2 separate regions of the Homo sapiens genome follow, and region 1 is linked to region 2. The links come from fine-mapping of genetic effects on gene expression. A gene starts in region 2. The other region holds a variant in brackets. All regions are shown on one strand. Distances are between the middles of the regions.

Region 1 (2,914 bases), 5.4 kb before region 2:
GAAAGTAGAAAGAAGATTCAAGGAGGCAGTCTGGTCATGATCAGAGTTTGAACCCAAAGGTTAGGCCCTGGGTTCCAGTTGGGTGACCTTGGCCAAGTCACTTACTTTTCAGACTCTCTGGTTCCTCCTCAGTAAAGTAGATGGAAGAACTGGGTCTCTGGGGTTTGGGTAGTTCTCATGTCTAGAAATCTGGATCTGGCCAGGGCCTGGCTCATGATTCCCCTCCTGCATGTGCTGACTCTGCCCAGCCCCAGTGGAAGAGTCAGCATGCAGGGGAGGAATAACGAGGCAGGCCCTGTGCTTCTCCTGGTCCTCAGGCAGTTATTGTTTGTGAATGTGTGATATGGAGAGGTAGAGAGAGATCTGAATCTAGAAATGAATTAGAAACATATTAGGAGAAGCCAGAGCCTTCAACAGAAATGAAGCCCGTCCTTTGAGTGCCTGTCCCTGGCAAGTTGAAGGTGGAGTCCCTCTGTCAGGAGCTCAGTTGAACTGGGAGAGGGAGCGCTGAGCTGCCAGGTGTCACAATAGTCAATTAAGGCAACAAGCCCAAAACAAAAGAGTCAAGCTTTCAGTCATGTCCTGCAATGGTATAAGCAAGTATCTGAAACCAGAGAAAGCGTGGACTCTCCCTGTTCCATTTCCCCCATGGAACACACAGGGGCCCAGGGTCAAGTAGATCAGCAGGAATGTCGGGTTGGGGTGGTCTCACTGCTGACAGAGCCCTGAACAAAAGGCTCTGGAAGTTTTATGGACTCTGGGGCCGAGAGCAAGGGAGGGGGAAGGCTAGGAGTGGAAGTACTAGATTCTGAGTCATTGTGGGGAAAAGCGGCTTCAAGATTTCTCTCCCTTCCCTGCCCCACCCAAAGAAGGCCTCAGCAGAGGCGCCTAAAGAACACCTCTCCCCAAGGCTTCTGATAAACCCAGGAATGAAGGCTCAGGGGCTAGGAATGCAAATATGTGATGACTACGACCAGCCAGAGAGACCTGAGACCTTGAGAGCTCCCTCCAGAGACTGCCACGCATGGGCTGTGCCCCAAGTCTGGGGTAGGGGTCAGCTTTCCCCAAGTTTGTGGTCAGGCCTGAAAAATCACACACAAGTTTTTCACCAGGAGGCCCAGGGAGATACTATGTGGCCTCTTCTCCCACCTACCTCTTCTGAGCCACGCTTTCCAGCTGTCAGGCAAGTATCAGGGCACCTACCTCTGCACAGAAGGGCAGTGACTTTCTCCAGGTGGAAATCGCTTTTCATCCAAATGTCTAGGCTCAAATCTCTTGGTTCCTGCATTTTAAGTTATGGGTATCTCTGGGAAATAATTGAGAGGACTAAGTACAAACACCCATCAAGCCTTCACATTATTGGCATGTATAAGATTCTGTTAGGTCAAGTGGCATCCTCCTTACCCTTTTTCTGAGGATGACCATGTGTTAATTGCTACAGACCAGAACTGTCTTCCTGAAAGTTGTCCAGGGCTGTGGGAAAAAAGTTGA[A/C]TATTTCAGTGCAAGTTCTATTGACACTAAAGCTAACACTGAATCACTCACTTATCCCAGCCTATGCTATTTTTTTTTTTTTTTTTTTGACAGGGTCTTACCCTGTCACCCAGGGTGGTTGGAGTGGCATGATCTTGGCTCACTGCAACCTCTGCCTCCTGGGTTCAAGAGATTCTCCCACCTTAGCCTCCTGAGTAGCTGGGACTACAGGCACATGCCACCACATCTGGCTAATTTTTGTATTTTGGTAGAGACAGGGTTTTGCCATGTTGGCCAGGCTGGTCTTGAACTCCTAACCTCAAGTGATCCACCACCTCAACCTCCCAAAGTGCTGGATTACAGGCAGGAGCCACTGCGCCTGGCCTAGCCTATACTGTTTTCTTTATATTATATACTTATATGTCCTGTCTTTTCTATCAGATTGTAAGCTTCCTGAGGACAAAGATGATGCCTTACATGTCTATATGGCACCCAGAGTATTTTGCTCTCAAATACATACTGCTCAGATAAGCTTTCAGGATATAGAACTTCAGATACCCACAAAACCATCTCTTCTAGTGTTGTCTGGAAATAAGTCTTGTGTTTATTCACTTTTACGTATAACTGTATCTCATCTTTCCAGGAAGATTGGAAACATATTCATGTTTAAGGCATCACAGTAGCTGACTCATCATTAGCTGTCAACAAATAAATACTTCACAATTAGATTTCTGGGAACAGTCTTCACCAAGAGACAGAAAGTTAACTGGAACTAAAATTTTAATCCCCTCAAACTCCAAGGAGACCTGTTTTCCAGGCATGATCCAACAGAACCGCTGCTTTTTAGAGTACCTTGGAGAGGCTATTTCTGAGGACAGCAAGCTAACAGGATCACCCCCCACCACCCTTTGCTTCAATTTGCCCTAGTACTCAGACTTAATTGGTGGGGACATGGGCATGTGTATAAAGCACGTGGAGATTATTTGTTATAATTCATCAGGGCTACCATTTGAAATTGGCCAGCACAATCATCCCTACTTGACCATAGTAATCAAGATGTGGCTGAGAAAGAAGGAGTGTTTGTTTCAACAAGCCAGAGAGCTGGTCTTCTGCTTTCTAAATGGACAATTTATAAAATTTAGATAGAGAGGCATCTTCCACTCTAGGCATGTACAACCCACCCCGCCATCCCAGTACATTCTTCTCTTTCCTTACATTTACCCATCCCTCCTGCCCCTCCTGCTTTCTTGAAGGTGAGTGAGCAGGTCCCAGGCTTACAGCTCAGTTGGACTGCGGTTGCCCTGTCTTCTCTGGTGATTTCTCTGTCTTATGGTCAGGAGCCAGACTCTGAGTCTGTTCAACTATGTAGAGGAAAGGTCACTAGAGAAATTCCACTTCAGCATTCCTCTAGGGATCAGAGATTCTGACTGCTCAACAAAATTAC
Region 2 (2,914 bases):
ATATCTGCTCTGGGAGGGACTTGCAGATGATCCTGATTGGAAATGAGGCTGATTAACCTTTTGTGTATCATTGACTCTAGGACAATCTGTTGAAACCTAGGGGCTCTTACCCTAGACAAATTAACACACCAGCCAGATACAGCTTACAAGGGCAGAGAGTTGCTGGTTTGAACCACAGACCCCTGGTTTAACATCTGTAATCTAGTCAACCCCTCCTCTTTCTTGAAGGCTGAACCAAACACGAAGGGTTTTCCCCACCTTCCAATCCTCATACATGCAGACACCCCCTTTTCCTGCTTTCTCCTTCAGTCATCTTCCTCACCATCCCCCATGCTTGGGCACTCTCAGGAGGGAAATTGTCCTATAAATATCTGTAAAAGGCATGGTATGTCCTGTAGCAGAGAAAGCAAAAAATAAAAATATAATTCCTCCACCCCTGGCATGGCACGTGCAGAGCTCTGCCTGATCCTTCTCTCCCACAAGCCTCGGGGGTGGGTAAACAAAAGTGAGAGGTGAAGCTGCTGCAGCGAAGTACCCCTTCAAAATCTTCAGTACCCTTCAGAGCCAGCGCTGTCATCACTATCACATAAACTGTACAACTCCAACGTCAACCAGCAGCCGCCTGGCTGGCAGCAGGAAGAGCCAATGCAATTTTGCACAGTGGCTTGCTTGCCCAAGGTATTGCCTGGCAAATGGGCTTCTTGTGCAATGGGGAACCACAGGGAGGGGCCTCTTAAATGTACCTCAAAGAAACAGCTCTAACAATGGATGATTCAACAGGCTAGTAATTGGCGCTCACTCTTACCACATTGTTTTGATAAAACGACATAGCCCAACTGGGGATATGAAGGCAGTAAGTAGAAAAGCTAACCTCTTGCTACTCAAATTGTGGCTGAGAACCAGCGACATCCCATCACCAGAAGCTTTATAGAAAAGCCAGGCTCTGTCCCAGACCTATTGAAAGGAGATCTGCATTTTAACATGATTGCGAGAGGATCCACATCTTAAAGTTTCAGAGGCCTAATCCAAAGTCTTCTGATAATGATCATTAGAGTCCCAGCCACCCCCGACTTCCCCCTGGGAAAACCACAACAAATAGAACAAATTCCTCCAAGCTCTGCTCATAAGAAGAACCCACAACCCACAGACACCCCCTCACTCAACTAGAGACCTCACCCACCTGTTTGCAGAGTCACCCACCTTGGGCTACTTCTTTTCTACTATTTAATCTTCTGGGAAAACAGAGGTCTTCTATTTGGAGATAAAAATGACAAAGGAGAACCTCCTGAACAGCATCCAGTTTGCTTTTAGCTTTAGCCATCTCTCTGACCTCAGTGCTGCTGGACTCAGTTCCAAGATCTAACTGTCAAATGCTTTAGGGGAAACGGGAAGAGAAGTCCCTGGAGTAACCCATGTGCGCAGCCTGGCACTGTTTTCACTTGCCTTTGGAAATGAAGGTGCAGAAACCATGGGAGGTAAGGAGGGCACAGACTAGTGACTTCCAGTGTGGGACAGAGGGGAAAAGATGGAAGAGAAGTGCAGAAAACCACTCGGGAAAAGACAGGCTGGAGTGATGCCTGCTGAGACAGGGCCCTGATCTCCCAGGACTTCCCTTTCTGCCTGTTCTGTAGAAATGTCTCGGGTTTTGTGGTTTAGGAAAAGAGATGCTTAGCAAGCTTGTAGAAAATGTAATGTGGGCACTTTGTTGCTGTCCTGGCTTTTAAAGGACTCTGAAGCAGATCAGCTTCAAGGTATTGGCTATTCTGTTTGCAGCCTTAGAAAGACATCCTTGATGTTTTATTGTTCTGCCTTTGCTAAGAGCTGGAAACTCTCCCTGGGGAAATGGCTCACCTTGAAAGAGATGCTATCGTAGCTGAAAATGTTTTAGCTTCACTTCCAATCTCTGGTTCCTTGTGGGAAGTAACTGCTGCTGTGGTATATATGCCCTGTGCCTTTTATTTTTACCATCTTTACCTCGGTGGACACAGCTGGTTGAAACTCAGTAAAACTTATGCTTCCATGGAGATTGATTCAGACAACAGGAAAAATAAGTGTAGAAAAAAACTGCACAGTACAAGGGCTAGATTCAGGTTGTAGAACAAAGTGATTATTACTTAGAATCCTGGATTAGCAAGAGAATAAGAAAGATGCTGAGATTACCTAGTGTTATCACCATCCACGTGAAACGTAGAATAAAACTTTTTCCCCACCACATAGATATTGGGCAGTTTATTATAGATGCTACAAAGGGATTTATTATATTTTTCCCAAAATGGTTAATTAGAGGCATCCCAAATTACAACTCCTTTAGCATAACTCCCAGCTCCATGCAGCCTACTTACTAAGGACCCAGCTACTGACAGCTCAGCTCTTTGCCAATCCAACTTTTTTTCCCCATATGCTCAAACTTTTCTTCTCCAAGAAGACTTCCTGAATGATCCCAATTCATAGGGATCTCATCCTTAATGCAGGGGAAATTCACTGTTCTGGAGTAGTCTACCATACCATCACGCTCTTCTTTTTGTGTAATCCTGGATTTCTTCTCCAGTTGTTTTATTCTTGCCTGTCTACACAGATAGATCAGTAGCCTTCAATAGTCTGCATCTCCTGTTATCTTGCAGCCTCCTACTATAAACAGTAGGTGCTTTACTTATGCCAGTTGGGTTGACCTAGACAGTAGTCTCTAAGTAGCAGTCCTTGGCTCATCCTTCTGAAACCAACGAGCTCTTAGGCAGGCTGAGAAAGGGTTAGGACTGTTCACTCTGGGACATCCTTGGCTCTGTATGAGTGTTGTTTTTAAAAGCAGGGATTTTGTCTCCAGTGCATTGAAGAGATAAAACCCCATTGTCAGCATATTTCTTCAGGATCTTTCTGTGTTAGATCTCACTGCCAAGCCAGAGTCCCCACACACAGA

What was found. PIP is the estimated chance that this variant, and not a neighbour inherited with it, causes the effect.
Region 1: its variant is fine-mapped to the expression of LINC01303 in whole blood (TOPMed, PIP 0.96).

What each region holds. Positions count from the first base shown.
Region 1 is chr14:61,563,916-61,566,829 of GRCh38, forward strand. LINC01303 (long intergenic non-protein coding RNA 1303) reads right to left here. Exons shown (of 5, transcript NR_110416.1): 3 at 1,405-1,473; 4 at 1-1,326. Among named protein-coding and RNA genes, the nearest start is that of LINC03033, 5.2 kb to the right of the region's middle. The variant A/C (reference allele first, on the strand shown) is at 1,492.
Region 2 is chr14:61,569,286-61,572,199 of GRCh38, forward strand. It overlaps LINC01303 (long intergenic non-protein coding RNA 1303), which reads right to left and starts at 1,368. Exons shown (of 5, transcript NR_110416.1): 1 at 1,201-1,368; 2 at 259-392. It overlaps LINC03033 (long intergenic non-protein coding RNA 3033), which reads left to right and starts at 1,255. Exons shown (of 3, transcript NR_039985.1): 1 at 1,255-1,475. RefSeq lists a silencer at 353-545.